2 separate regions of the Homo sapiens genome follow, and region 1 is linked to region 2. A link means that fine-mapping ties the variant in region 2 to the expression of a gene that starts in the linked region. Tissue or cell type: whole blood. Region 2 holds a variant in brackets; the other region holds the start of a gene. Each region is shown on its reference strand, or each on the opposite one.

What was found. PIP is the estimated chance that this variant, and not a neighbour inherited with it, causes the effect.
Region 1: CBX7 starts here. The variant in region 2 is the best candidate, but not a certain one, in a credible set for the expression of CBX7 in whole blood (TOPMed, PIP 0.75).

The regions. Positions count from the first base shown.
Region 1 is chr22:39,148,837-39,165,051 of GRCh38, forward strand. It overlaps CBX7 (chromobox 7), which reads right to left and starts at 3,844. Exons shown (of 6, transcript NM_175709.5): 1 at 3,540-3,844; 2 at 953-996. The coding sequence starts at 3,608. It also overlaps the pseudogene FUNDC2P4. RefSeq lists enhancers at 1-386, 1-7, 48-342, 3,422-4,003 and silencers at 3,461-3,510, 3,581-4,150.
Region 2 is chr7:28,208,292-28,224,790 of GRCh38, forward strand. It overlaps JAZF1-AS1 (JAZF1 antisense RNA 1), which reads left to right. Exons shown (of 4, transcript NR_034097.1): 3 at 8,952-9,058. Among named protein-coding and RNA genes, the nearest start is that of JAZF1, 36 kb to the left of the region's middle. The variant G/A (reference allele first, on the strand shown) is at 8,330.

The sequences.
Region 1 (16,215 bases), not on the chromosome of region 2:
CTCTCTGCTGTCTCTCCCCACCATCACCCCAGAATGCCCACAGGACCCCATACCAGGTCAGCCCCCACCAGCACAGCAAAAAGTCCCTGCCCGACAGCAGCAGCTCTGGGCAGAGGGGGTTTCCAGGACTCAGTCTCCGGGAGGCGGGGCAGGGGGTGGGGCACCCACAGACCAATGGGGAGGCCCCACGACTAGCTCATTCCCTCCCAACAACTCCCTGCTGGAGGGCATTGGTGGGTTCCTGATGGGGCCTCAGCAGGAGAGGTGGAGAAGCTGGGAGGTCTCAGATACAGCTCCCTGCCTCCCAACTCCGAGATGGGAGGCTGGGAAGGCACAGAGGAGACACCTGAAAAGGAGAAGGCCTAGTTCAAGTCCCAACTCTGCCTCCACTTGCTGTGTGACCTAAGGCAAGCTGCTTACCCTCTCTGAGCCTGTTTCCTCACCTTGAGAGCGCCTGATCACACCTACCTTACAAAGCTGTATGGGAACCTGCTCTATAGACTGGAAAGTGCCGTCTAGAGGTGAGGGGGATTCAGGCTCTGCCCCTGGCCACACAGCACTGAGGACTCATGCAGCACTGTGCTTAAAGCAGCTGGGGTCCCCTCCTCCTGTCCAGCAGCCATCTCCAGTAGCCCGGATGCTGGGCCTTCACCTCCCAGTTGCCAAGAAAAGCCACAGGGAGGGGAGGAGGGAGAGCAGAAGCTCCAACTAGCAGAGGAGCTCAACACTCAGGAGGGCAGGGTGAGAAGAGAAGCTGGAGACCCACCTTGACCCTCCTGTGGTCCAGGGGGAAACTGAGGCCCAGAGAAGATGATGATTAAATCAAGGTCAGCTGTCCAGTTACAAGAGTAGCTGGAGCTAAAAGCTAGGCAGGGGAGGGGGCAAAAGGCAGGTGGAGGAATGCATGGGTCGGTAGGCAGACAGACAGACACACACACATGAAGGAGCTTACTTTGGGGGCCATCCTTTCCACTTCACCAGATACTCGACTTTACCCTGAGAAGAGAGAGAAGCAGACACAGTGAGTCTCGTGGTTGCCCCTACAGCCACTCGGAAGGACAGTTAAGGCCCAAAGGAGCCCAGCTCCAAATCCCATCTGCAGACAGGTGTCTCCCCAACACACAAACACAATCCGGGGACTGTCCACCAGATCCTCGCCAACCCATATAACCGCGACTGCTGCATGCCCGCCCCATACTGCCCTCCCTAGGACAGCACAGGAGTGCGTCTGGCTCCAGCCACCTCTGAGGCTCCTGAGGCCCAAGCCCAGGGCTCATGTCACACACTGGGAGCTGAGACTGCATGGAGGTGTGCATGCGTGGCCAAAGACCCACAGTGTCTAGAGCCCCAGTGCACAGGTGGGAACGCTTACTTTCTTTTTTAGATTGGAAGAGTCTCCAAATACGAAAACATTCCTCTCTGGGGTAGTCCCCACGCTCCTCCCCCATCTGCTGAGTCCCCTTTCAGTCTGTGAGTGGCTGCCTCTGGCTCAGAGGTAATGGGCCAGTGACTTGAGGACTCTCAACTCAAAAGACCCTGGCAGGACCCCATGGAAGACTGGCAAAGTCTCCACCTTCAGAAGGGGTGGTCAGCCCTGTGGTTGTTAGAAAGTAGAGCCAGGCCCCTCCCTTCCTCACAGGCTTTAAAAGTTTACAGTTACGGTGGCTCAAGCCTGTCATCCCAACACTTTGGAAGGCTGAGGCTGGAAGATCGCTTGAGCCCAGGAAGGAGTTTGAGACAAGCCTGGGCAACACGGTGAGACCCCTGTCTCTGAAAAAAGGAAATTAGTTGGGCATGGTGGCACTTGTCTGTGGTCCCAGCTACACAGGAGGCTGAGGCAGGAGGATCGTTTGAGCCGGGGAGGTTGAGGCTGCAGTGAGCCATGTTCATGCCCCTGCACTGCAGCCTGGGTGACAGAGTGAGATCTTGGTGCCAAGAAAAAAAAAAGTTTACAGTCCAACCCCATTGTGAGTGAAGCCCCTGCACGCCAGAACTTTAAGACCAAAATATGATACCTCCTCACAGAGGCTTTCCCTGGTGACCCTCTCCCATGCTGTCTCCACTGGCACCTTGCAGTTCTATTTCTGCAGAGCACACAGCTCCATCTGAAGGCATCTGTCTGTATCTCCTCATTCACTGTGTGCCGCCTCTGCAGAATGCCAGCTCCCTGAGGGAAGGGGTGGATCCCTGGGGCTTAGACTGGTGCCTGGTACCTGACCAACCCTCAATAAATATTTTGAGTGACTGGCCGAAGGAATGATGATCTCGCCCTCTTGTGCTACCCTGCGGGCTCCATCGTAGAGGGAGTTAGTGCTGTGCCTGCTTCAGGCTACACAGCACGAAAAGCACTGAGCTTTGTGGAATAAATCAATTCTCTTTTAAGTGGAGAAAACCCTAGGAAAAAGGAGAAGGAGGAGGAACAGCTGCCTCAATCAGAAGAGTAAAACCCCAAGCACAGCTGGAGGAAGAAAAGATGCTCCTGACCACCTTGACCTTCACCCTTGGCCCGAGATGCCAGGACTGAGTTTTCTCTATGGAGAAAGAAGATGGGCTGCCAATCAGCCCAGTTGAGCTCCTGCTCTACCTCCCTATCTAACTTGCTCGGTGACCTTGAGCAGGTCACTTCCTCTGCCTGGGCCTCAGTTTTTGTCTCTGTTAAATGGGAGGAGGTGACCCCCTAAGGCCCCTCCCAGTCGGCCTGGAGCCTCCCAAAGGGCTGCAGGGAGGAGGAGACAAAGGAAGGACAGTAGTGCGTACCAGGAAAGGAACTTCTCCCCAAGGATTTCCCCAGCCTTAGGCGAGCCCCCTCGCCAAACAAGTGCACGGGAGGTGTAGACGCCAGGCCCGGACAAAGTCTAGCCCCAAAGTGTGGGGTTCTGAAACCAGCAGAACAGACACCTCCTTAAATTGCAGGGTGTATGTTTTGAAGAAGGCAGATGGGGTAGGAGACTAGGGGATGCCCCAGCGCAGGGGGCGGGCTTCAGAGCCCTGGCCTGGGCTAGGAGTTGAGGTGGGGGTGGGGGCGGGGAATAGGGATGTGCTCGGGTGGCGTAGAGGGGGCAGGATCGGAAAAGGCCAAAGTCCAGCAGGAAAAACTTCAGAGGCCGGAGGAGACTTTTCCAAAGCTCCACTTACAACTTGAAAGGATTTGGTGCCAAGCGTCCAGAGTCCCGAGTTCAAAACCCAGCTCTGACCATAACGCGCTAGGCAAGTCCTTTCAACTTGGGCCTCAGTCTCCCCATATTTACAATAAAAGGGGAGCGAGGTGGGATGGCGCTGAGGATCCCTACGTCCGATCCTAATCTCCAGCTCAGGCAGGCTCGGCCGCCACTAGCATCCTGGAGCGACAACTTTTGTTCTACTCGCCCTACACGGTGGCAGGGAAACTGAGGCACGGGCTGGGGAGACGGGCCCAGCAGCGCAGGGCTGCCGGGGCCCCCGCGCCCCGCTTTCCCCTTCAGCCCCAGCGTGGAGGGAGCGGTGCTGGGGACGGGAGGGACCCCACTGGGGTCCTGGGAGCCGCCCCCGGGCAGCCTCACCTTCCGCACGCGCTTCTTCCGGATGCTCTCCACGGCGAACACCTGCTCGCCGATGGCTGACAGCTCCATGCGGGGCGGCGGGCGAGCGGGCCCGGGGCCGGGCCGGGCCGGGGGCGGAGCTGCGGGGCCGCGGCTGCGGCGCGCGATGCTGGGGCTGGCGGGGTCCCCGTCACCCTCGTCCGGGCGCGCACGCGCACGCGCACGCGCGCACACCCCCTCGCGCTCCCTCACGCCGCCGACGTTCCATTTTTGAACCTGCGCAACGTTTTCCTCGGCGCCAGCGAGCGAGCGCGCGCAAGGAGGGGGCGGGGCGGGAGCGCGCGGAACGGCCGCGGGCTCGGCTCGCGCCCTGAGGGTCAGCTCCGCCCCCGAGCCCCGCCCCCATCGGAACCCCGCCCCCGGGGCCCGCCCCCGCGGGTTGCGATTGGGCCGCGGGCCGCGAGCCGCGAGCGCTGCCGTGGGACTTATTTGGCTCGGTCACCGGCTGGGGCGGGGCGGAGGCTCGCGCGCCCCGTCTTGCTGTGACGCCGGGGCGGGACGTGATCCTTAATACCCAGGCGGGCGCCTCATAGCCTCCCGGTGACTGCCAGGGGCCGAAGTGGCAGGGCCCAGTGGAGCCGACGACAAAGTCAAGGCTCAGAGCGGGGAGGCCATTTGCTCACCTCCCGCAGCGGAGGAGACTGGGCCCGAGGCGCAGCCCCTCGAGTTGCAGGAGAGCCGGGACCCAAAAGGCTTCCCACCGTGTCCGGACGTCGCAGGGCCGAGGTCTCCCTAATCCGGCCTTCTCCGCGGCGCAGTTTGGCCAGTGTCTCCACGTCCGTCCACCCACCCCTCCATCCGCCCTTCCATTTGTCCATCCACCCGACCCTCGGTGGTCGGTGCCCAGACGCACGGGTCAGACGCGGGCGCTGCCTCGAGGGCTCCCGGGCCGGGCCCTCGTTCGCGGCAGGAGCGGCCGCGGTGGAGCTGAGGTCCCCCGGGGACGGATTTTGCCGCCGCGCTGCCCCAGCCTTCCCCAAACCCGCGTGTACTGGGCGCTAGGTGCTTAGTGGGGGCTCAACCATTTGTGGCACGAGACGAACTCTTGATTCCCCACCCCCCTTCCTTTTTCGCTAACGCGCCTCCATTCCTCACTGGGAGCCCGGCGTCGTCCCTGCTCCTTCCTGTACTGACCCCAACTTCTGTCGCTCCGGCATCCCCTCGGGGACTCGGGTCTGCCTGCCCTCACCGCACCCACCTCCCAGGTTCGCCCCGTCTTTTCTCTGGACCACAGCAGAGACCTCGCGGAGCTGCCCTCCCTCCGATCTCAGCCACACAGTGCCAGAGTGTGCTTCTAAAATGCAGATCTGACGGGGTCACCCTGTGCTTAAAAATTTTCCTCCCTATTTCCCTCACAATAAAATCCAACACCTCTTTCTGGCACATAGAAAAAGAGAATAATAGATTCACACCTGACTTTTCATCAAGAGCAACAAAGCCAGAGAGAAAATAACCATCATCTTAGAATTATATATTCAGTGAAAATGTATTTCAAGAATTATGTACCCAGTATGAGGCACATGTATCCAGAACGTAGGTGAAATCATAGCACTTACAAATACAAAAACTTAAGAGTTTGCCACTGGTAGACCCTCCGGAGGGAGATTCCAAAGCTGGAACTTCAGGCAGGAAAAAGATGATCCCAGACGGAGGTCTGATGCAACTGGGAATAAAGAAAAATGAAGAACAGCGATAGTGTGAAACAATAACAATGACTTCTGGATAAAAACAGATTTAAAATACACAACAGTGATGGCATTTACTTGGGTGAATGGAGTTAAAGTGTTCTAAGATCCTTATATTCTTCAGGAGGAAGGTGAAGATAGATACCAAATACACTTTGACGAATTTAAGAATCCAGATTGTCATTACTGGGATAAACACTGTAGGACTGGAAATACTGTGTATAGTTATCCAAATTATTGGAGGAGGAAAAAGAATGATTAAACCAACCCAAACAACTGTAAAGCAGGCAAGAATGGAGAGAAAAATAAATACAAGACGGGGCAGGGAGGGGACAAATAGACGATAGCTATAAATTCGAATATTTTGTGATTCAATAAATGCAACTAAATATTGCAGTTAAAATACAAAGATTATCAGAATGCATAAATAGCTAGATGCAGTTTACAAGAGAAACCCACAAGAGACACTTCCAAAACATAAAGCTAGTGATGGTCAAAAGTAAACACATGGGGGGAAAATACCACGCAAATGCTAACGAAAAGAAGGCTGGTGCAGTTATTTTAATATCGAGGGAAAAACATCACTAGAGATAAATAAGGTCATTTCATAATGAAAAGTGTCCAATTCACCAGAAAAATAGAACAATTTCACATTTGTATGCAAATCATCTTAAAATATAAGAAACATGAAGAAGACAGCTAGATGGAGAGATAGACAAATCCACAATTATAGTGGGAGATCTTAACACTCACCCCTCCATAAGTGGTAGGAGAAGAAGAAAAATATTCAATAGTATATAGGAGATTTGAACACAATTAATAAACTTAACTAATGGACTTCATAGCACACTGTTATCTACCATGGTAAAATACTCCCCTTTACAAGACATGGAATACTTACAAAAACAGTTCATTTCAATAAATTTCAAAAGTCAGAAATAACAGAATACATTCTCTGACCACAACACATATAAGCTAGAGATGAATAATAAAAAGTTCACTTCAAAAGCCCCATATGTTTGGAAAGTAAGAAGTATGGGTTTTTTTGTTTTTGTTTTTCATTATATTTATTTATTTATTTTGAGACAGAGTTTTGCTCTTTCACCCAGGCTGAAGTGAAGTGGCACGATCTTGGCTCACTACAACCTCTGCCTCCCAGGTTCCCAAGTAGCTGGGATTATAGGCACCCGCCACCACCCCCAGCTAATTTTTGTCTTTTTAGTAGAGGTGGGGTTTCACCATGTTGGCCAGGTTGGTCTCGAACTCCTGACCTCAGGTGATTCAACCATCTTGGCCTCCCAAAATGCTACAATTACAGGCATGAGCCACGGAAGAGGTACGTTTTTATGTTAACTAGCGGTTCAAAAAAAAGAAATTGTAATGGAAATTATAAAATATTTTTAACTGCTCTTCCGCTGTCGCCGTGGGAATGGAAATCTGTCCCTCGTGCTGGAAGCCAACCAGTGGTGATGACTCTGTGTGCCACTCCGCCTCCTACAGCGCGGATCCTCTGCGTGTGTCCTCGCAAGACAAGCTCGATGAAATGGCCGAGTCCAGTCAAGCAAACTTTGAGGGAAATTTTGAGTCGCTGGACCTTGTGGAATTTGCTAAGAAACAGCCATGGTGGTGTAAGCTGTTCAGGCAGGAATCTGGACCTTCCCCGAAAAGTGAAGGGTGGCAACCCAGCCGTTCATTGGGGGTGTCACTGAATGGTGCACGGGTTTCATATCCCAGAAGGTTGGAAAGTTGGCTGTAACAGTTGTGGGAGGTGTTTTGTTTTTTTCTCCTTCAGCTTGCAAATCATACTGGGTACATCAAAGTTGACTGGCAACGAGTGGAGAAAGATATAAAGAAAGCCAAAGAGCTGCTGAAGATCCCTTAAGAGCAATCAGATACCTACCAAGGTCAGGAGCAAAGCTGAGGAGGTGGTGTCGTTTGTGAAGAATGTTCTAGTGACTGGGGGATTTTTCGGAGGCTTTCTGTTTGGCATGGCATCCTAAGGAAGATGACCTTATTTTCATTGTTCTTGTTTTTTTTCCATCCAGCAGTCTCTACACTCCATCATAGGACATCAAGTCTCTCCTCTTCTCCTGTGCCTTCCTCCCTGCTGTAGCAAATCCGAGTGGCTTCTATAAGCATCTCTTGGTACAAGTTAATGTGGCCCTTGGCCAAGTGCGGTGGCTCATGCCTGTAATCCTAGCAATTTGGGAGGCCGAGGCGGGTGGATTGCCGGAGCTTAGGAGTTTGAGACCAGCCTAGGCAATATGATGAAACCCCATCTCTACTAAAATACAAAAAAAAAAAAAATTAGCCAGACGTGGTGGCAGGCACCTATAATCCCAGCTACTTGGGAGACTGAGGCAGGAGAGTTGCTTGAACCCGGGAGGCGGAGGTTGCAGTGAGCTGAGATCGCGCCACTGCACTCCAGCCTGGGTGACAGAGTGAGACTCCGTCTCCAAAAAAAAAAAAAAAGTTAATGTGGCCCTACCATGAGCTTGATGGTGGCAGAAGAGGCAATAGTTGTTAGGTCTCCTCCCATACACCCCGTATGTGGCCAATCTGTAGGTCAGCAAGAAGGTTCCTTTTCCCCCATGCAAGACACTTACCAGATCACATTGCAAGATGACTCGCCATGGAGGATGAGCAGACCCTGAAAGGTTGTCTCAAACTGTTGATTTGGAAAAGAAATAAGCACATAGATAAACTTATTGTGTGCTGCATGGAAAGGAACTGAATACATTTGCCTTTAAGCATGAAAAAAATATTTTTAACTGAATGACAATAGAAATATTACATAGTAAAAATGTTGGGCTATGGCTAGTGCGCTTCTTAGAGGGAAGTTTATTGCCTTTTGTGCTTATATTAGTAAAGAGAAAAGGCTGAGAGTAATGAACAAGCGCTCGTTTCAAGAAGCTAGAAAAAGAGCAGCAGAATAAACCAAAGAAAATGAAAGGAAGGCAAGAGTAAAGGTACAGGAGAAAATAGGCCAGGCACAGTGGCTCACGCCTGTAATCCCAACACTTTCGGAGGCCAAGGCAGACGTATCACCTGAGGTCAGAAGTTTAAGACCAGCCTGGGCAACATGGCAAAATTCCATCTCTACTAAAAATATAAAAATGAGCAGGCTTGGTGGCTCGTGCCTGTACTCCCAGCTAGTCAGGAGGCTGAGGCAGGAGAATTGCTTGAACCCTGGAGGCGGAGGTTGCAGTGAGCCTATATCATGCCACTGCACTCCAGCCTGGGCAACAGAGTGAGACTCCATCTCAAAAAAAAAAAAAAAAAAAAAGAAAGAAAGAAAAAAGAAGAAGAAGAAATGGTAAAGAGAAAATAATGAAATGGGATCAGCAAAACCAAACATTATTTCTGTGAAAAGACTAATGGCATGGACGACTCCTGTTGAAATTGATCAAGAAAAAAGAGAGAAAACACAATTAACTAATATCAGTAATTAAAAGTTACAGAACCTGTAGACATTTTAAAAAGGAAAATAAAAGAGGATATTATGAATAGTCTCATTACAATAGCGTAAAAATTTGAATGAAAGGGGCAAGTTCCTAGGAAAATATGCCTTACCAAAATGGTCGCAAGATGAAGAGAAAACCCGAATGAGTACCATCCCTAGTCATAGTACCAAATTATGAAATACTTTCATAGCCAGTTACTGACCATTTGAAACACTTTCCAGCCTTCACATGGAGCAGGGTCCAGAAGGCTGTCCAGGCAGTAATTCCGTGATTTATGTGACATCAGAAGGTCTGGGGGATCTGGGGCATCCCTGGAAGAGTCATTGCACTTAGGAGGTTGATCGTAGCGGCTACATACCAATTGGTATGAAATTATTTTGGAATTTGAGCAACCTGAAGTCCTATGGCACCAGCTGGACATCAGACCTCCCCATAATGATTAAAGGAAGGAAACCGGTAATGCTTCCACAAAGAAAGCTCAGACCCAGAAGACTTCACCTATAAGCTCTTGAAAGAACTCATTCCAATGCTACCCCCAACTTTTCCACATAATAGAAAAAGAGAGACTGCTTCCCAATTCTTCATATGGCAAGTACAGCACAAGAGAAAATTACAGGCCAATGTCACTTATGAATATAGATACCAAAATCCTAAATAAAACAGCAAATCAAATTGAGCAGTATGTAAAAATGATACTACATAGTGGTAAAATTGGGTCTAATCCAGAAATGCAAGGTTGGTTTAACATTTGAAAACCAGTCAATATAATTTGCCTCATTAAAAAATGAAAGGAGAATTAGCCAGGCATGGTGGCGGGTGCCTATAATCCCAGCTGCTCCGGAGGCTGAGGCAGGAGAATCGCTTGAACCCGGGAGGTGGATGTTGGAGTGAGCCAAGGTCGTGTCGTTGTACTCCAGCCTGGGCAACTAGAGCAAACTCCACTCAAAAAAAAAAAAAAAAAATTAAAGGAGGAAGACATGTGATCATCTCAGTATATGCAGAAATAGTTCAACATCTGTTTGTTTTAAAACTTGTAGCAAACTATCAACACAAGGGAATGTCTTTATCCTGGTAGAGGGCTCTATAAAAAACCTACAGCAAATATCTTAATGAATGTTGAAATGTGGAAAACATCCCCTTGAGATCAGTTACAAGGCAAGATTGGATGAATCCCCATTTCTGCTAAACATCACACTGGATATCCTGAATCTGTTGCCCACTGTGGTGGCCATTGGCCAAATGTGACTGTCAAGCATTTGAAATGTGACTAGTTCGAACTCAGACAGAAGAATAAAATTAGATACAGGCCAGATTTCAAAGATTTAGTACCCAAAACATGTAAAATGCCTCATTAATAAGTTGATATTTATTTAATATGGAAATGATAATATTTTGATACATTAGGTTAAACAAAAAATTCATCTTTTTTTTTTTTTTGAGACGGAGTTTTACTCTTCTTGCCCAGGCTGGAGTGCAATGGCGTGATCTCAGGTCACTGCAACCTCCGCCTCCCAGGTTCAAGCGATTCTCCTGCCTCAGCCTCCTGAGTAGCTGGGATTGCAGGCATGCACCACCATGCCTAGCTAATTTTGTATTTTTAGAAGAGATGGGGTTTTGCCATGTTGGTCAGGCTGGTCTCGAACTGCTGACCTCAGGTGATCCGCTCGCCTTGGCCTCCCAAAGTGTTGGGATTATAGGCGTGAGCCACCGCGCCTGGCCTATAAATTAATTTTTAATGAAGATTTTAGAAAATTTTAAATTACAGTTGATCCTTGAACAACACAGGTATGAACTATGTGGGTCCACTTATTCATGAGTCTTCTTCCACCTCTGGGAGGTGGCAAGACAGCAAGACCCACCCCTCCTTTTCCTCCTCCTCCTCAGCCTACAAAGCATGAAGAGATGAAGACCTTTATGATGATCCACTTCCACTTAATGAAGAGTAAATATATTTTCTCTTCCTTATGATTTTCTTAATAACATTTTCTTTTGTCTGGCTTACTTTATGGTAAGAATACAATATATAATGCATGTAGCATATAAAATATGCGTTCATTGACTGTTTATGTTATAGGTAAGGCTTCCAATCAACAGTAGATTATTAGTAGTTAAGTTTTGGGAGAGTCAAAAGTTATATGAGGCCAGGTGCAGTGGCTCACTCATGTAATGCCAGCACTTTGAGAGGCCAAGGTAGGTGAATCACCTTAGGTCAGGAGCTTAAGACCACCCTGGTCAACATGGTGAAACCCCATCTCTACTGAAAATACAAAAATTAGCCAGGTGTGGTGGTGGGCACTTGTAATCCCAGCTGCTGGAGAGGCTGAGGCAGGAGAATTGCTTGAACTCAGGAGGCAGAGGTTGTAGTGAGCTGAGATGGCACCACTGCACTCCAGCCTGAGTGACACAGAAAGACGGTCTCAAAAAAAAAAAAAAAAAAAAAAAAAAAAAGACAACAAATGAAAGAAAGGTGAAGTGATTTGAAATAAGACCATCAGCCAGTCGTGGTGGCTCATGCCTGTAATCCCAGCACTTTAGGAGGCCTTCAATAGCTTATAGGTGAAGTCTTCTGGGAGGCTGAGGTGGGCGGATCACAAGGTCAGGAGTTTGAGACCAGCCTGGTCAACATAGTGAAATCCCGTCTCTACTAAAAATACAAAAATTAGTCGGGCGTGGTGGCTTGCACCTGTAGTCCGAGCTATTCGGGAGGCTGAGGCAGGGGAATTGCTTGAACCTGGGAGGCGGAGGTTGCAGTGAGCAAAGATCGCACCAATACACTCCAGCCTGAGCTACAGAGTGAGACTCTGTCTCAAAAAAGAAAGAAAGAAAGAAGACCATCATTATTTTCAGATTTTATGTAGAAAATTTTAAAAATCTTCAGAATATTTATTATAATTAATAAGAAAATTTAGCAAATTGTTGGATAAAATATCAACAGACAAAAACCTATTGTGTTTTGTGTTTCCATATGCCAGTAATAATTAGAAAATGAAGTAAAATATTATTTATATTATAATAAAAATATGTAAGATATCTGGGAATAAATCTAATGAAAATATGCAAGGCCCTTATGGAATAAAATCATAAAATTATATTGCAAGACATTAAAGAAGATCTAAATTTATTTTTTTGGCCGGGCACGGTGGCTCACACCTGTGATCCCAGCACTTTGGGAGGCCAAGGCGGGAGGATCACTTGAGGTCAGGATTTCGAGACCAGCCTGGCCAACATGGCAAAACTCCATCTCTGCTAAAAATACAAAATTTAGTCAGGCATGGTGGCATGTAGCTATCTATGATCCCAGCTATTCTAGAAGCTAAGGTAGGAGGATCGCTTGAGCCTGGGAGGTTCAGGCTCCACTGCACTCCAGCCTGGGTGACAGAGCGAGACTGTTTAAAACAAAAAACAAACAAAAAAAAACAACAACAAGACATAAAGCTATAGCAAATAAAACAATGTCCTATTGTTCAAGACTAGACAAATAGAAAAAAAGGAATGACAATGAGAGCTTAGTCAAAGAGAGAAGGAGAGAGAGAGAATAAAATTGCAGTCACTGGGTAAAGGATACACTTTTCAATAAATGGTGATAGTTATTCATACAGGAAATTAGACCATTAGACCTCCTGCCTGGCAAAAATTGACTCCATCTGACTTCAAATCCTAAATGTGAAAGACAAAATTCTGAAACTTTTAGAAGATGATATTTTAAAATATCTTTATCTTTATGATCATGAAGTAGGGAATCGTTTCTTAAACAAGAAACCAGGAACATAATTCATATAGGAAACAATTGATAACTTAGACTCCATTAAAACTATGAGCTTTCTTTATGAAAATACATATAAAGTCAGCCAGCGACTTGAAAAGCTGAGGCAGGAGAACCGCTTGAACCTGTGGGGTGGAGGTTGCAGTGAGCTGAGATCGTGCCACTGCACTCCAGCCTGGGTGACAGAGTGAGACCCTGTCTTAAAAAAACAAGGCCAGGAGCGGTGGCTCATGCCTATAATCTCAGCACTTTGGGAGGCTGAGGTGTGTGGATCACCTGAGTTCAGGAGTTCGAGACCCGCCTGGCCAGACTGGCCAACATGGTGAAACCCCGTTTCTACTAAAAATACAAAAAATTACCGGCCGTGGTGGTGGGTGCCTGTAATCCCAGGTACTCAGAAGAATCGCTTGAACCTGGGAGGCGGAGGTTGCAGTGAGCCGAGATTGCACCACTGTACTCCAGCCTGGGCAACAAGAGTGAAATTCCATTTCCAAACCAACAAACAACAAAACAAAAAGAGCCAGGCGCGGTGGCTCACACCTGTAATCCCAGCACTTTGGGAGGCTGAGGCGGGCAGATCACCTGAGGTCAGGAGTTCAAACCAGCCTGGCCAACATGACAAAACTCCATCTCTACTAAAAACTACAAAAATTAGCCAGGCGTGGTGGCAGGCACCTGTAATTCTAGCTGCACGGGAGGCTGAGGCAGGGTTGAACCCAGGAGGCAGAGGTTGTAGTGAGCTGAGGTGGCACCACTGCACTCCAGTCTGGGCGACAACGTGAGACTCCGTCTCAAAAAAAAAAAGAAAAGAAAAGAAGAAAATATATATAAAGTGAACAGAAAAGAAAAATATTTAAAACACTCATAAATGGACAAAGGAGGTGATGTAAAGAGTTCCTGTGAATCAAGTGGGAAGATGGACAATCAGTTGTAGCAAAATACAGGAGTGCAGAATGTGGCAAAGACTTGGACAGGCAAAGAGAGGAATCACCAGTGGCCAACAGTTGTGAAAAGTTGTTCAAGCTCATGAGTAACGCAAATAAAATCCCACAATGAGATACGACTGATTAACAAAAATGTTAAAGTCCGTTTTAAAAATTATTGCAAGCAGGCTAGGTGTGGTGGCTCACGCCTGTAAACCCAATACTCTGGGAGGCTGAGGTGGGAGGATTGCTTGAGCCCAGGAGTTCGAGATCAGCTTGTGCAATATAGCAAGACCCTTGTCTCTACAAAAAAATCAGAAATTAGCCAGGTGTGGTGGTGCATGCCTGTACTCTGAGCTACTCAGGAGGCTGAGGTGGGAGGATCACTTGAGCCCAGGAGTTCAAGGCTGCAGTGAGATATGATCACGCCACTGCACTCCAGCCTGGGTGACAGCGAGAGACCGTTAAAAAAAAAATCTTGCAAGCACTGGCAAGAATGTGGAACAATTCTTCTTCTTCTTCTTTTTAGACAGTCTCACTCTGTCACCCAGGCTGGAGTGCAGTAGTGTGATCTCGGCTTACTGCAACCTCCACTTCCCGGGTTCAAGTGATTCTCCTGTCTCAGCCTCCCGAGTAGCTGGGATTACAGGCATCTGCCACCACACCTGGTTAATTTTTTTGTATTTTTAGTAGAGATGGGGTTTTGCCATGTGGGCCAGGCTGGTCTCGAGCTCCCGACCTCAGGTGATCCACCTGCCTCGGCCTCCCAAAGTACTAGGATTACAGGCGTGAGCGACCGCACCCGGCCTAATTTTTGTATTTTTAGTAGAGATGGGGTTTTACTATGTTGGTTAGGCTGGTCTCAAATTCCTGACCTCGTGATCCACCCACCTTGGCCTCTCAAAGTGCTGGGATTACAGGCATGAGCCACTGTGCCTGGCCTATGTATGGTAACTTTAACTTTTTTTTTTTTTTTTTTTTTGAGATGGAGTCTTGCTCTTGTTGCCCAGGCTGGAGGGCAGTGGCGTGATCTTGGCTCACTGAAACCTCCGCCTCCTGGGCTCAAGCAGTTCTCCTGCCTCAGCCTCCCAAGTAGCTGGGATTACAGGCACGCACCACCACGCCCAGCTAATTTTTGTATTTGTAGTAGAGGCAGTGTTTCTCCATGTTGGTCAGGCTGGTCTTGAACCCCTGACCTCAGGTGATCTACCCGCCTCGGCCTCCCAAAGTGCTGGGATTACAGGTGTGAGCCATGGCACCTGGCCATGTATAGTAACTTTTAAAGAAAATTCCAAACTGTTTTCTAATGTAGCTGTGCTATTTTGCATTTCCACCAACACTATTTGAGAGTTCCAGTTGCTCCACATCCTCACCAACTCTTGATATTGTCAATCTTCAATTTTAGCTATTTATTGCCCATATACTGACTGAATGTAGAGAATTTGCATTTCTCTAATGGCTAATGATGTTGAGGACCCTTTCAAGTAGTTATTTGCCATTCATATATCCTCTTTGGTGAAATGCGTTTTCAAATATTTTGCCCATTTTAAAAATCAGATCATCTTCTTAGTCTTGAGTTACAAGAATTTTTGGCCAGTCATGGTGGCTCACACCTGTAATCCCAGCACATTGGGAGGCCGAGTCAGGCAGATACTTGAGGTTAGGAGTTTGAGACCAGCCTGACCAACATGGTGAAACCCCGTCTCAACTAAAAATACAAAAATTAGCCGGGCATGGTGGTGTGTGCCTGTAATCCCAGCTACTTGAGAGGCTGAGACATGAGAATCACTTGAACCCAGGAGGCAGAGGTTGTAGTGAGCTAAGATGGCACCACTGCACTCCAGCCTGGGCAAACGGAGCAAGACTCTGTCTCAAAAAAAAAAAAAAAAAAAAAAAAAAAGATTTCTTTATATAAATATTTTCACCAAGACTGGTTTGCCTTTTAATTTTTTTCTTTCTTTTTTCTTTTCCTTTCTTTCTTTTTTTTTGAGCTAGGGCCTCACCCTGTCACCCATGCTGGAGTGCCATGGCATGATCATGGCTGACTGTACCCTTGACCTCCCAGGCTCAAGTAATTCTCCCACCCCAGCCTCCTAAGTAGCTGGGACTATAGATGCACACCACCATGCCCGGCTAATTTTTGCATTTTTTTTGTAGAGATAGGGTTTGGCACTATTGCTCAGGCTGGTCTCGAACTCTTGAACTCAAGCAATCCACCTGCCTTGGCCTCTCACAGTGCTGGGATTATAGGCATGAGCCGCTGCATCTGGCCACCTTTTAATTTTTTAAATGATGTCTTTTGAAGAACAAAAGCTCTCACATTGCAGAATAGGATCCATTTTGGGTTAATTTTATATATGATGTGGGGTGAGGGTCAAGGTTCATTTTTTTCTCCATAAGGTTAATCGATTGTTCCAGCACCTTTTGTTAGAAAGACTGTACTTCTCCTTACTGAATTGCCTTAACACATTTATCAAAAGTCAGTTGCTTTTATGTGCATGGATTAAATTCTGAACTCTCAATTCTGTTCCTTGATCACTTGGGCTCAAGTGATCCTTCTCCCTCAGCCTCCTGCGTAGCTGGGACCACAGGTGTGTGCCACCATGCCTGGCTAATTAAAAAAAAAAAAAATTGTAGCAATGGGGTCTCACTATGTTGCTCAGGCTGGTCTCCAACTACAGGCCTCAAACGATCCTCTCACCTTGGTCGCCTAAAGTGTTGGGATTACAGGCATCAGTCACCATGCCCAGCCCTATATTAAGTCTTAAAATCAGGTAGTCTAAGTCTTGTAACTTTGTTCTT
Region 2 (16,499 bases):
AGCTGCATAATTTTCTATTGTATGCATATACCAGTGTTATTTAACCACTCTCCTATGATGGATATTTATGTTGTTTTTATGTTTTGTATTATAAATAATAGTGCAGCGAAAATTCTTCATCCACCATGTATGCATCACATATATATTACACACACACACACACACAGACACACACACACGCACACACAGGCACACACACATCTTTCTGTATGGTAAGTGTTGAGAAGTAGATTTCAGGATCAGATTTTATTATACATTTTTCTTTTGTTTTTTACTTTTGAGAGCTATTAACAAGCTACACTCCAACATACTAGCAATGTAGGAGAGCTTCACCACAGCCTCGAATTTGGGGGAAGGCAGATAGTTCTTAAAGCTATGTTCTCAAATGCATGCCATCTTGGCTTGTCTAGAAATTGTGGCCACGAGATTGTGATCAAGGTGGGGACCTTCCTGGGTAGGACCACAGCTGCTTTCAAAACCTACCATAAGATGAGTATTAATTGAGGGCTCAATCATATCCTCAAGCCCCATAGTATCTGGACTTAAAAAAAATATAGTAAGCCCATTAAGGTTATTGACCAAGTTGGAATTTAATACCAATGCTGGTCTTTCAAAGATACAGTGCAGAGAGACCTGAATGGCCTCTGAATTAGTGGGCTAGGGAACTACTTCTCCAAGAATGAAGTTGTCCACATAGCTCTGAAAGTTTTCTAGAAATTTTAGTCATGGAATAAGCTTTGTCTATTTTTAAAATGTGTGGATATTATTATTGATAAAGGCTCTAATCCAGGCAAAAGGAATAATTCTTAATCAATACCTACTGTAGGAGCTAAATTATATCACCCCCAGATTCTTTTTCTTTCTTTCTTTTTTTTTTTCTTTTGAGACAGAATTTTGCTCTTGTCCTCCAGGCTGGAATGCAGTGGCGAGATCTCAGCTCACTGCAACTTCCACCTCCCAGGTTCAAGCAATTCTCCTGTCTCAGCCTCCTGAGTAGCTGGAATTATAGGCACCCACCACCACACCTGGCTAATTTTTATATTTTTAGTAGAGACGGGGTTTCGCCATGTTGGCCAGGCTGGTCTTGATCTCCTGACCTCAGGTGATCTGCCTGCCTCAGGCTACCAAAGTGTTGGGTTTACAGGCATGAGCCTAATCCCCAATATCTCAGAAAGTGACTGTGTTCAGAGATAGTCTTTAAAGAGGTAATTCAGGTTAAATGAGGTTTCTGGAATGGGGCCTAATCCAATGTGACTGCTGTCCTTCTAAGAGAAGATTAGGACATAGATACACACAGAGGGAAGACCATGTGAAGACACAGGGAGAAGACAGCCGTCTGCAAACCAAGGGGAGAGGCTCCACAATAAATCGACCCTACTGCTAACATGATCTTGGACTTCCAGCCTCCAGATAAATTTCTGTTGTTTAACCCCCCCAGTCTGGGGTATTTGTTATGGCACCCCTGGCAAACAAAGAAAGTTAAGCATGGCTGAGGAATTGTTCATCCTATCTGATGTTAAACTGCCTAAAACTCTGAGTTAAAGAAAATATGGTGAGTGGAAACTTATTTCATAACTTACTTGCCTGCCTCTTCTCTACTTATTTTAATACAGTTCTTAAGGAGTCCATAGAGTGATTTATAGGTTGGTGCAAAAAGAATTACAGTTTTTGCCATTGAAAGCAAAACCAAAAACCACAATTACTTTTGCACCAACCGAATAATTTTGAGATGAATGAAAAAAATTTTTTTGAGACTTTCAGAACTGTGATATTTCATTATCCTTGCATTTTATGAAAGTAGTATGATATTAAATGACATGATGGACACATGACAACTAGAACTTTTTGAGTATGATTTTAAGATAGACAGGGCAGGACTTAATACTTCTCTGGGCACTGTGCTCCCTCATCATGGAAAGCAGAGTCCAGGTTGACCCTTGGTCCCTAGCACAGGTACACATTCAATACAAACCCCACACTGTACGACTGGCCATTTGAGTGGGATGGATTACACATGCTTCTTTTGAGGGAGGTGATCTGGGACCTGAATCCTTTCTCTAAAGGATTACTTAGAGACCAGCTCCTACACCTGTTAAGCTAAGATTTTGAACTTCTCACTGTGTCTCTTTCAGTAGATGAGGGTGGAATTTGGCCCAGAAGGCAGTGTCAGGAAGTGCATGCTGGGATGGTCCACAGAATACCTGTTTACCAGTGAGTTGAAGGGCTGCCCCTTTGGGCACAATTTGCAAACTGTTGACATATGTTTATGAATATAGAAAAATAAAATCTTTGCTTAATAAACTTATCTTTTATTTTACAGACTGCTTTTAAGAAAATATTTTGCCTTTTTTTGAAGACAATTTTTAAAAATCTTCATTTCATATTCTTCTGGCCAAAGGAATTTACTTTTGTTAAGCATGGGGAAAAAGCTCAGTGCTTGGGGGTCTTTCTCTTTCTATATTTTGAATTTAATGGCTTTCTGAGTCATATTCTGTTGGCATGTACTATAGATATCCATTCAAATTACTGAAGACCTGGGTGAAAATAATTTCTTGGTACACATGCCTAATTGTCATACCCATATTTCCCTAGAGCATATCACTGTTCTGAAACCATTAAGTGATTGTGCAAACTTAAATATAAAAGACAAACTTGAATAATAACAATCTTAAAAAAATTAAGATATTTATATTAGTTTTCATGCTGCTAATAAAGATATACTCAAGACTGGGTAATTTATAAAGAAAAGAGGTTTAACTGACTCACAGTTCTGCAGAGCTGGGGAGGCTTCAGGAAACTTACAACCATGGCAGAAGGGGAGGCAAACACATCCTTCTTCACATGGCAGCAGCAAAGAGAAGTGCAGAGTGAAGGCGGGGGAAAGCCCCTTATAAAACCATCACATCTCATGAGAACTCACTATCATGAGAATAGCATGGGGGAAATGCCCTCATGATTCAATTACCTCCCACCAGGTCCTGCCCATGACATGTGGAATTATAGGAACCACAATTCAAGATAAGATTTGTGTGGGGACACAGCCAAACCATATTATTATCAAACTTCAATAACTTTACTAAAAATAAAGAAAACACACCATAGCTAATTCCAAATAATTTGAGATTACTCTCAAACTTCCAATATTTTTTCAGATTATAACATAAACCTGAATTGGAAGTCTATAAAATTATTACAAATTGCAAAAACAATATGTTTTATTTTGAAATAGTTTCAAAATCACAGAAAAGTTGCAGGAACAGTTCAAAGAACTCCTATATGTACATCACTCAGAGATCCCATTCATTTCACTAATTGTCTGAATAATGTCCTTAGGGAAATGATCTAATACAGTGTCATGTGTGGCCTTTGGTTGTCATGCCTCTTCAGTCTCTTTCAATCCAGAACAATTCCATAGTCCTTCCTTGGCTTTCATGACTGTAAAATTTTAAAATCATGGGCAAGTTATTTTAGTAGAATGTTCCTCAATTTAGGGGACTTCAATGTTTCCTCATTATTAGAGCCAGGTTATGCATGCATTTTTGAGGGAATATTACAAAAGCAATCCCAAGTTCTTACATCCTGTCAGTTGGCACATGATTTCAATCTGGTGATGTTACATTTGATGTTATACTTGAGTAAGGTGGTTTCTGCCAGGTTACTTTACTAGAAAGTTATTCTTTTTCCTTTATAATGAATGTCTTTTGTGGAAACATACTTTGAGACTATGTAAATATTTCATTTGTCTTCTAACTCTTGCCCACAAATGTTAGCATTCATTGATGTTTCTTGCCTGAATCAGTTATTACTATGATCATTGCCAAATGGTGATTTTCTATTATTTCTTCTACATTTAATAGCTAGCATCTGCTAAAAAGAGGAACTTTCTCTTTTTTCCATTTATTTATTAGTTTGTTTAAATATGATTGGACTCAATGATACTTTATTCAGTGTGTTAATGGTTCAACTGGCTTCAAACTGGCTTCTATGTCCTTTTGACATGCCCCCATCATTTTTGAGTACGTCATTACTTCCTGACATTAAGTTATTGTTTAGACTGGACGCAGTGGCTCACGCCGGTAATCCTAGCACTTTGGGAAGCCCAGGTGGGCAGATTGTTTGAGCTCGGGAGTTTGAGACCAGCCTGAGCAACGTGGCGAGACCCCATCTCCACACACACACACAAAAAATATAAAAATTAACTGGATGTGGTGGTGCCCACCTGTAGTCCCAGCTACTCGGGAGGCTGAGGTGGGAGGATGGCTTGAGCCTGGGAGACAAAGGTTGCAGTGAGCTGAGATTGCACCACTGCACTCCAGCCTGGGCAACAGAGAGCCAGACCCTGTCTCAATAATAATAATAATAATAATAATATGTTATTTTTCAGACTCAAAAAAAGCAGAAGCAAATTGTGCTTTTGCTGCACCAGCCCTGAAATCTGTCTTTCTTTTTTTCTAAGATCTCTTCTGTTAGTGGAAAATGGTTTCTAGAAATCTGTAAGCTATGTAGGCTTACTGCTATTGGCCTATTGCTGCTTCCAGGATCTCTCAGTGGACAGAACAAGGACAGAACATTGAAACATCTAGATTCATTTTTATATCTATCTAATTATATATATATATATAAGTTTATAGCAGTTCCTCCACTTCAATTCAAACACAATCGTTTCACCTTTTCATATTTAAAATTCTCTTATCAGGCAGCAAAGGAACCCGGCTGCATAATCCTCAATATACAGTTATCCCTTCATATCCATGGGGAGATTGGTTTTAGGCCGTCCCAAGGATACCACAATCTGCAGATGCTAAAGTCCCTGATCTAAAATGGCATAGTATTTGCATATAACCTAATCATATCCTCCTGAATACTTAAAAAATTATTTTGGAGACACGGTCTCTCTCTGTTGCTCAGGCTGGATTGCAGTGGTGCAAGCATGCCTCACTGCCATCTCAACCTCTGGAACTCAAGCAGTCCTCCCACTTCAGCCTGCTGAGTAGCTAGGACTACAGGCATGTGCCACCATACACAGTTAATTGTCTAAATTTTTTATAGAGATGGCATCTCACTATGTTGCCCAGGCTGGTCTCAAACTCCTGGCCTCAAGCAATCCTCCCCTCTCAGCCTCCCAAAGTGCTGGGATTACAGACATGAGCCATCATGACCAGCCTGTCTGAATACTTTAAATCATCTCAAGATTACTCATAATACTAAATACAATGTAAATGCTATGTAAATACTTGTTTTACTATATTATTTGGGGAATAATGACAAGGAAAAAAGTCTGCACATGTTCAGTGCAGATGTTGTTTAAAAAATATTTTTGATGTACAGTTGGTTGAATTCACAGATGTGGAATCTATAGCTAGGGAGGGCCGACTGTATTTATTTGTTCAGTCCCCCTGTATGCAACAAATCCTTCAGCCTGCTGGGCCACCACCCACTCAACTACTTTCTAACTTTCCTTCTTCTTGGGCATCTCCAGTGATTTTTAAAATGAGTGATTAAGTAGAAAGGAAAGAAAAAAGTAGTGAGAAAAGGAGGAGGAAAAGAAGAGAGAATAAAAATAAAGAAGGAAGGATGGATATTAATTGTTAATATTGATCATGGAAAAGCATGTGAGTAGAAAATTCATGAATTAGGGAAAGAAAATACAAACTTAGGGATCTGCCTGGTTGAGAAGGTAGTTACTAGGTGAGACTAGGTTGTGCTGCAGTAATAAACTGAATTTTAGGTGATAAAGACCCTAAAATCTTAGTGGTTTAAAACAATGCATGTCATGAGTGGCTCTGCAAGGTAAGTGCTCTCTGTGGGGTGCTCAGCGCTCCAGTGTGCTTTGACCTCATCATCCCTCTGTCTTAAGATGTTACCATTGCCATCCAAGCCTTCAGGGATCACTGAGGTGGGGGAAGAGAACATGTGACCAGCTCTTACATACTTCCTCATGGAAGAGACACACATCAATTCTGCTCACTATTTATTGGCTAAAGAGTCAGGTGACCACTCATAATTTTAAAGGGGCAAGGAAGAATAGTCTTCCCACTGCCCATAGTAGCAGAACAGAAAATGCTGGTAAGCACAGGGATAGTTACCACAAAAGCTGTTTTCTCCCAACTGTTAGGAAAAGCTAGCAATATTGAGACTATTCAGAGTCATCTTTTTTTTTTTGTAAAAAAATTTTATCATGTCCCCTTTGCCATAAATATTCTTGAAACCCAAGATAATTAAGATAAAGGTCACATTATAGATACCAAGAAAATCATCTGAAAATTATTTACTTTGACTTTACATGGAACTGAAATCTGAATTTAGAGATGGTTCACATCGTTTCCACTCTGAAACACTTTTTAGTAAAGATTGAAGTCACTGATTCTAGAATAGGGCTGCACATTAGAATCACTTGTGGAGATTTATAAAAATTGCTGCCTGAATGAACCTTGTTCTTGGAGATTCAGATGGAATTGGCCTGGGTGGGGTCTAGACAGCAGTAGTTTTTAAAACTCTCCAGGTGAATCTAATGCAAAAGTCAGGCTTGGAATCTCTGCTTCTAGCCCTGACACCATTGTACTCCCACTGGTCCTTCAGCCTGCATGTCACTTCCTCAAGGAAACCTCACCAACTCCTAAGTCTAGTGATGTGCTCCTATGTCTCTCTATGCTTTCTGTCTTATTCTCTTTGGAGATGGAGTCTCGCTCTGTAGCCCATGCTGGAGTGCAGGAGCACGATCTCAGCTTACTGCAACCTTCGCCTCCCAGGTTCAAGCAATTCTCCTGCCTCAGCCTCCCAAGTAGCTGGGACTACAGGCGTATGACACCATGCCCTGCTAATTTTTTTGTATTTTAGTAGAGACAGGGTTTTACCACGTTGCCCAGGCTGGTCTCCTGAGCTCAGGCAATCCACCTGGCTTGACCTCCCAAAGTGCTAGGATTACAGGTGTGAGCCACCGCATCCGGACTTCTGTTTTATTCTTTATCACACTGTGCTCTGTTTGCCTGGATGCTTTGCTATATTTAGCTGTAAGCTCTATAATGGTAGGGACATGTGGTCTTCATTTTTTGAATGCACAGTCCCTGACATAGATGCCTACCTAACACATAGTAAATGCTCAATTAATGTGCATTGAATAATTAATACATAATATTGGATTTAGAACTTTCTTTATATTGCTTCCTGTTCCAGTGTAAAGCTTGGAAGGACAGACATAGGGTTAGGAAATTAGTTTATTTGGATCCTTTATGAATAACTGATAGATATGGACCTCTTTTAAAATGATCCCGGACTATGTACACAATGAACATTTGTAAGATGGAGTAAAAGCAGAAAGTAGGCTAGGTGCAGTGGCTCATGCCTGTAATCCCAGCATTTTGGGAGGCTGAGGAAGGCAGATGGCTTGAACTTAGGAGTTCCAGACCAGCCTGAGAAACATGGCAAAACCCTGTCTCTACAAAAAATATTTACAAAAATTAGCCAGCGTGGTGGCACACTTATGGTCCCAGCTACTCAGGGGACTGAGACGAGAAGATCACTTGAGCCCAGGAGGTTGAGGCTGCAGTGAACTGAGATTGTGCCAACGCACTCCAGCCTGGGTGACAGAGTGAGATCCTGTCTCAAAAACAACAAAACCAAAAACAAACAAACAAAACCCACAAAAATGGCAAAATAAACAACAACAAGAAGCAAGTAAACATTTGATGCTTTTCAAAAATGATTGTTTGAACTCATTTACAGGTTAAATACACTGGGAAATTTTCTTAAGATAATCAGAAATGGCTAATCTATTTGCCTAAGCATGTTGTAGCTGTATGCCTTTAGATAATAATTATAGTGCCTGCAAGGTAAAGGATAAACTTCTCTGTTATTCAAAGACCTTTGCAATCTCTTCCCAGCCTGCCTTTCTAACTTCTCCCAGCTGAGTGAAGGTGGAAAGAGAGTACATTTTGAATTCAGAAGCCTCAGAGTCAAATTGCTGTTCCACAGTATTCTATCTGAGAATCTTAGGCCTGTTTCTTAATTTCTCTGGGCCCCAATTTCTCCATCTGTAAAACAGGGAAAAAGGAGCTACCTCTCACAATTGTTTTGAAGGTTAAGATATTGCATCTGATGGTGCTTTGTAAAGTGCAAAGCCCACTGCAAACAATTCTTAATATTAGTTGCCAAACAGAGTTACTGATAGGTGTCACACTTTAGATGAGTACCTGAAGTTTCTCAACCTGGCGCCTTCCCCGGCTGAGAGTACTTTTTCTTGTCATTCTATCTATCCAGTTTTTATGCTCAGTAGTTATTAGTCTCCTTCCCTCCCTTCTTGAATTGTTATTTCTCAATACGTCTGGGCAAT[G/A]GAACTCAAGCCGTGATGCAGTGATGGGAGGAAGATGCAGCAATGGATTGTCTTTTCTGTGGCACTGCAAGTGGAGAACAGGGTAGGAAAGAAACAGTAATGCCTGCAAGCATCTGCTCACTAATCTCAAAAGTGCTATTTACTTTTAATTATTTATTATAATACTTCAAAGCATATTTTGTAAAATTAATAAAGCCTGAGTAATTTGAAACCTCTCCATTTAGCTTGCCAATACATCTTTGCTGAGAAATGCAGTTGAGTGGAATTCTGAGAGAACGATTTGATCTATGGGCCAGGGACAGAAGGATTACTGAGGATTTTTATATGTTCTTAGAATGCCTTTCTATTTCAGGAGAAAAATAAAACAAACATAAAGCAAACTCCACTTCATAGAAGCAAGCCAAGTTATACCAGAAAATCTCTTATTACTTAGCGAAAAAGAGAATTTCTACTCTAAATCACACTCCTTATGTTTACATATATTAAATATAGAATGAAAAGAATTTAGAAAGCAAAAACAATGTTTATAAGTGAACTTTTAAAATCAGACGCAGACATGTAAATGAAAATGTTACCATTGTATGAGGACCTATGTTAATTTTTGCATAACGTTTGTTTCCAGGGGTTCCTGTTGAGATTAAAGTAAATGCATTTACCAGCATACATGTCATGGAAGACTGACTCTGCACCATGCTCTGTGACAAAAGGCTTCAAGATTAAACCGGTTTGGTAAATCCTCTTCTTGGAGATGCACAATGCATGTCTGCCTATTAAATCTCTGAGTGCTCCAGCAGTAGAGATCCTGTTGAAATTTAACTTTGTTGTTCTTAAATTTCCTTGACTGTGGAGCCTTTTAAAACAATTATTTCACCTATTAACAGCTGAAAACATGCTGTCCTTTGGAGTACTTCTTGGGAAGCTCTGAATGACGTCAATTAAATACATTCACTTGCCCCGCTCATCCACAGTGTCCTTTCTGGAATGGCCTTGCAATAACAGTTAGGTAAAATTTTACATAAAGCATAATGTGCTTTAAAACTAGTCATAAAAGGATTTTTCTTGGTAAGAGCTTTATTGGGATATAATTCATATAACATACAATTCACCCATTCAAAGTGTACAATTGCATGGTTTTTCGTATCTTCACAGAGTTGTGCAAGCATCCCCATGGTAAATCTTAGAACATTCTCATCGCCTCAAAAAAGAAAATTCATTCGTTTTAGCTATGATCCCCTATTCCTCTATCCCTCCACTCCACCCCTAAGGAGCAACTAATCCATCTTCTGTCTTTATAGATTTGCCTATTCTAGATACTTTATGTAAATGGAATCATACAGTATGTGGCCCTTTGTGCCTGGTTTCTTTCACTCAGCGTAGTGTTTTCAAGGCTTTCATGTTATAGCATCTATTAGTACTTTACTCCTTTAAAGTTTTAAAGATGGACAGAAGCCCAGGAAGGTAAGAAAGTAAAGAAGGGCAGGGTGGTGAGTTGGTGCCCTGGGGATCCTTGAGCTTGACTAGGATAGGAAATGCCCTGCCTGGGAGAGAAATGCCATATTCTTTCCTTTCTTCCATAACTTCTTATGGTTTGGGCTCCAAATCTTTTTACACACACAGAGTTGATCTCCTTTGCAAAATCTGCTTCCTGAAAATTGCTGGTGGATCAACACTGATGCTTTTCTTGGATATGAGGGCCACAAGGCTTGCACCTGTTTCTCAAAATGAGTATCTGAAGTTTGAGACGCTTGTATTTGTTTCCTGCTTATTTTACAGACTTGAAGAGGGAATTTCCAAGGGGATTGCATGGCGCTTCAGTTAAACCTTTGAAACCCCATCTCTACTGAAAATACAAAAAATTAGCCAGGCATGGTGGCGCATGCCTGTAGTCCCAGCTACTCGGGAGGCTGAGGCAGGAGAATGGCGTGAACCCGGCAGGCAGAGCTTGCAGTGAGCCGAGATTGCACCACTGCACTCCAGCCTGGACGACAGAGCGAGACTCTGTGTCAAAAAAAAAAAAAAAAGAAAAGAAAAAGGAAAAAATGCTGCTTCTCTCCTGAGGCAGCTACTAGAATCATTGTAGGGATATTGCATTTTGTAAAAAAGCTCATAAAAGTTTTCAGCAGTTAGCTCATAAGAGCTCTGGAGGTGAGAAGAGTTCTTTTTCCTAACAGAGTAGGTGAGTCAGGGTCTGGGTACAGAATTTATCACCCCGCCAATGCTCTTCCCAAGAGGAGAAAAAAATGAAAAAAAAAAAAAAAAAAAGAATGTGAATGTTCCCAAGCGCTCGGGATTAAGGTTGATTTAATCTGGTTGCTTCTATTTTGCCATGTTGTGACTTTCACGTGCATCCCATTGCCTGATGCTTATAAATGATGGTTGCGCATAATGTCCCATCTTTTGGGTGCAGAGTTCAAGGACCCTGAAACAGCTGTAGGGGGTGTTTTGGACCCTGGTCTAGCAATGGCCTCAGAAGATTCTGATAGAGGTTTGATTGGTCACTTTACAAGGAACACTGGTCTATACTTAGTCTCTGTTACATGCAGGGAAATATTGATTCTGAGGCATTGAAGTCACAGAACTTAAGATGCTTTTATCCACTAATTCGGCCAACGTTCCTTGAATGCTGCTGTTTCTACACAATAGGGATATAGCATTAAACAAGACAGTCCCTGCCCTCGTGTAGTTTATAATCTGGCTCAGATTCCTCTAAATCAGAATTGTCTAATGTTTCTTGTGGATGCTGTGAAATGATCAAGATGTCTCAAATTAACTCGTTTCTGACCTGAGCTCCCTAGACAGACCCCGCATGAGCAGGAAGAAGCATTCTGTGCTATGTGTCAGCCACTCCTTTGGATGTGTCACATGCCTTTCTTCTTTCATCTTCCTGACAAGCCTACAGGTAGGGTCTTGTTACAACTCTCTGGTGGAAGAAGTTGAGGCTCAGCAAGGTTTATTAAGAGACAGAACCAAGATTGACTCTAAGACTGTCTACCTATTCTCTTTCAATGAATCAATGCTACTCCAACAAACTGAAACACTTTGATATTGACCCCAAATTCAAGGGATGCCCAAAGGAGCACTAACAGGTGACAACAAAAAGTGTGTTCAATTCAACAGTAATAACAGAAGGCATTTTTGTGCCTTGAATCCTGTAGCGTGGTGGAAACAGCATAGGCTTTGATAAATCAGTGAGGATCACATTAGTCTCCAATCAATTAAAATTCCAAAAATAGAGGCTTAAGATTTAAAAGTATTTTCCTGTAAAAGGTGGCATGTAATTCCTTGGTCTTCAGGGTCAAAGGCTCTTCCAGCTTTCTGTTTCCTTATCCTCATTGTCCAATATGGCTGCTAGAGCTCCAGATATCACATCCTAGTTCCAGGCAGCAGGAGAAGGGAAAGGCTGAAAAGGGGCATTGCCCCTTCCCTTTGGAAGACTTCTCAAATGTTTTACATAATACTTTAACTTCCATCTCCTTGGTTAGAACTTAGTCACATGGCCAACCTAGCTACAAGGAAGAATGGAAAGTGTGATCTTTTAGCTGGAGAGCAGTGTACCCAAATGTGAATTGAGGTTCTGTTACTAAGAAGAGGAGTCTTGTTACCAGGAGGTAACTAACAGTCTTTGTTGTAATATATTCTATGCTTTTTAATTATATGGTAAAATCTTAGCTACAGCTTATTAACTGAATTGATTGCATTTTTTGCATTCACTCGACAAACACTAATTGATGCCTACTGTAGGTATTGTGTTAAGTGCTAGGGATGCAAAGACCAATAAGACACAATAGGAACTCGATATTATCAAAATAAATATTAAGGGTGATGACTAAGGGATGCAGGGTTTCTTTCAGAATTCTAAAATTGATTGTGGTGATGTATATACAACTCTATAAATATACTACAAATCATTGAATTGTACACTTACATGGTGAATTGGATGATATGTATTCTATCTCAGTAAAACTGTTTTAAAAAGACAATGTGTGCCAGAGTAGAAAGGAGTCTGTATGCCAATGCTTAGGAGATTCGTGTCAGTGCAGAGAATGGATTAGAGCAGTGGTTCTCAAAGTGTGTTCCTGGACCAGCAGCATCCGCCTCACCTGGGAACTTGTTAGAAATGCAGCTCCTCAGGCCTTACTCTTCATCTGCTCAGTCAGGAACACTGGGGGTGCGAGCAACAATCTGTGATTGAACAAGCCTACCAGGGGATTCTAATGCACGCTCAAATTTGAGTTTCTAGATTAGAAAATATGAAAGGACTGAAGGAGAGCATTTAGGATGTTACTTCAGTGAACACCAGTGAAATGACAGTGAACACTGGTGACACTGAACACTGGTGGCTTCAAGTAAGGATAAAGAGACAGATGTGGAATTATTAGCTATAGCTGGAAACACTTCTAAAAGGGTCTTAATATACTTAACTATTAAAGTGATGAATCAGGAGGTAATGGCCAAAACTGATGAAAAAGAACTAGAAGTCTATGTAAGCATATAATGAAGGTAACCTATAAAGGAACTAGAGTGATAGTCATTAACATTTTGGAGGAGGGTAGAAAAAGAATAATGAAAATGAATGACGTTTTTGCCTTTCTGGCAATCTCTTGAATATTCTTGAATCTTTTGAACAATAATCTCTTAAATTGACAAGTAGATTTTTGAAAAAATATATAAACTTATTATGTAAGGAAGAACTAAACCCAGAAATGGTTAGGTTTCCTCTGATGAGGTGGCCAGGGTGGAGCTTTTAATTATCTGCCCTCCTGCACGTTTAAAAAAGTGCAAAAATAGAATGTTTATTTAAAAAACAACCACTTAACTCTCTAGGTAGATTATACTATTAGTCTCACTAATCTGATCCCCCTTAAGACATCAGCTACAGTTTATGAGTAAATTTGAAAAACCAAGAGTTTTAAGAGGTAACGCCAGAGAATTAAATTTAATCTGAGAAAAAAGTCATCTAACAGTAACACAAATAATCTTGGGTGTTTCTAAAGCCCTATAGCTGGTATCTTTTCGGTGTGAGTTAGTACCTGAAGACTCATGATGTTCTAGTTATTTTTCTCTCTAATTTGAGTTGCTCTTGTCCTGTCTCTTAGGTGTATAACATCTCTCTCAAGAGATTTGTTTCACTGGGTCCACCCAAGTCAATAGCATCCACAGGTTCCTTCAGGTGCTAAATTCTTTGTGCTATTATACTTCATGGAGATGAGCATCCCAGGAAGCCTGGGCCGCATTTCACTCAGGCCTTCAGCCTCATCATTTCTCCAAAACCTGTCCCTTCAAGGCCCAAATAATCTTTGTGCTTCCAGTCTCAAAGCTCATTTCTTGGTGTACATCTTATTCAACCTACCAACCCCAGCTGACCATTTATTCATTGACTATATCTTCACTTGGCTTCCAGGACCCTACTACCCTGGTTTTCAGGTTTTCTTGATGGCTTCTTTTTAATCTTCTGTGTTGCTTGCATCTCTGAACCTTGCTGAGTCTTAGGGATCAGTCTGAAGATCTCCTTTCCTCTCTAGCTTCACTCACCTACTCATTCCACAAATGATCTCATGTAAGTCTCATGACTTTAAATACTGTCTATATGCTGGTAACAACCAACATTTTATCTCCAGCCCTTACCTCTGAACTTACACCTCCAGCTGTCTATGTCATGTCTCCACTTGGGTGTTTAAGTACCCATTTCGAATGTGGCATGTTCCAAAACACTCCCTCTGCAAACTCTTATTCTTTTGCAAGCTTTCCCAGCTCAATATGTGGAAATGTCCTTTTTCCAGCTGCCTAGGTCAACATGGACTCATTCTTTGTCCCTCTCTTCCTCTCATTCCTTAGGTGTGATCCATCAGTCATACTGCAGCTTTCCCATCAGGTATATTCAGAAGATGACCACTTCTCAACATCTCCACTATCACAACCCTGAGTCAAGCAGCCATCATTTCAGCCTAGAGTATTGCAATAAATGGTCTCCCTACATCCACCTTAGTACCTTCTCAACTAATTCTCCACATAGCAGCCAGAGTGAGTGTCTTAAAATATGCACCAGATCTTGCCACTTCCCTGCTTAAATCACCCATGACTTCCATCTTACTCAGAGAGAAAGCTAAAGTCCTTACATATTCCCCGGAGCTGTGGCCTTATCTAGCAAACAATACCATGGTTTTCTTTCCCTAATCAGTGTTGGTTTCACTCTGTTCTTGATAAATCCTTTTCCTGCCGCTAGCTATCTTGAACATATAGGCCACTGAACACAGAAAATTCAGTGAAAGGAAGTGGCTGAATCAGTGTATTTTAATCTGCTAAAAACAAACAAAAGGTTAAAAGAAGAGTAGAATTTATGATACCCTATTAATGAGGAATGTGTATACGTACAGCAAGTAATAATCTCAGTCTATAAGCATAGATATTCCAAAGATGTAACTTTATTTTTCTACAATTCAGTTTATATCTAGAGCAGTGTGCATCCTGTAGAACCTTCTGAGATGATGGAAGCATTTGCTGTCTGCAGTGTCAAATAGAGAAGCCATCTAGTTTCTTGGACAGGACAGATCCAGAGCCCCCATTCCTCCCAGTGGTGGAAAACATAATCAGTGCAGGGCAAACTCAATCAAAACAAGGATTTCTGTTATTTTAGGGGACGTCCCTCCTCTCTTTATCCCTAGGTTGCATCTAAGTCTTACAAGGCTCCTTGAGAGTTTCTGGTTCTCAATCCTCTGTCATCTGCTGAGCAGTCTGAGTTCTTATTGATCTCTGGTCATTGGTCTCTCAGGTGACTATCTTCTGGTTTGCCGGCCATCCCATAAGTTTTTTTAGGATGAGAATGTACACTACAGGTGTTTTTATTTGTGACCTTATGGGGTATGTGAGTGTGTGTGTGAGTGCTAGATAAATATGCATTTGCTCTAAATTTGAGAATATTCAATTCTGCTATAGAAAATAGAAATGGATGGTGATACTCTTAAGACGTGTTAAATATAGATAAGGAAGTTAGTAACTTGTGAGATGTGTTAAATGTAGATAAAATAAGTAGGGCTTATGCATACTGAACATAGATAGGGAGAGATGGAAGAACTAAGAGACACCTAATTTTCACAAAGCGCTAAATATACATGGGGTACCAGAGGCATCTAATTTTCATGATACACTAAATATACTAGAGGTATGTGAAACCCTTTATATTTATGACATCTGAAATTGATAACCCATTGGTGACACCCATTCTGACTCCAAATGTCCTCTGCCAAATAAAATCCACAGCTGCTCAACAGGCTAACTAGTGAGGAATAGCTGTAGCCAGATATAATAAATACATGTGTTTCTCCTAGAAAACAATGTCTGTGCTGGTCCCAGGCATATTCTGTGTCTTGGGCCTCTTTGCTCATCTTTGGTCCTTATAGCCTCACCATCAAGAGGGAAGACTGATGGTGTGGGGAGAGCAATGTCTATGGGTCTTTCATAACCCAGGTTTTATGTAGTGTGGTCCTTCTACCTTTCCTGCACCCTTTCCTAAGTACATTACCCGACCCCATTTCTTTTCTCCTTTTTATTGATGTGTGGATAAATTGATTTAATAAATTGTGTGCTTTGAGTATTTTAATTTGGTCTCTGATCCTTTTTAGTCCTGCATCTCTGGGGTAGCTTGTGCAACAGTGTACTGGTAGCATAGAGGCTATCATGGCATCAAGGTAATTTCCCTCATGACACTGGGGGTAGATGGGATTGAGACTGCCTCAGGGTGACTCTGCCCAGACAGGCTGTGCTATCATCACTATCTACTGCTGCTGCTCTACCACACTGCTGTGGGAGAGGGCAAGAAGATTTGGCTCTTCTGTGAACCCCAACTAAGGAGTGAGACATAGCCCTTGATCATGCTCAGATTCCCAAACTTACTAGGGGGTTCTATCTAGCCAGACTCGGCCAGGGGCAGGAGTCACTCCTTCTCTGGGACACCCACCAGTGTTTCAATAGCTTTCCTCCTCCTCCTCCCTCAGTATGGAGGGTCTGTATGTCCTTTGGGAAGCACTGTTTCCAAATCTGTGGCTAATAGTATAAACTTCATGCCTCTAGTCCTTAAGTACCTTGGTTTTGATTCTCATAATCCAGGCTTTTGAAATTCAAAAATCTTTTTTGAGTTAAACTTTTTGAGTTTATTGTCTCTAGTTTAAAAAGT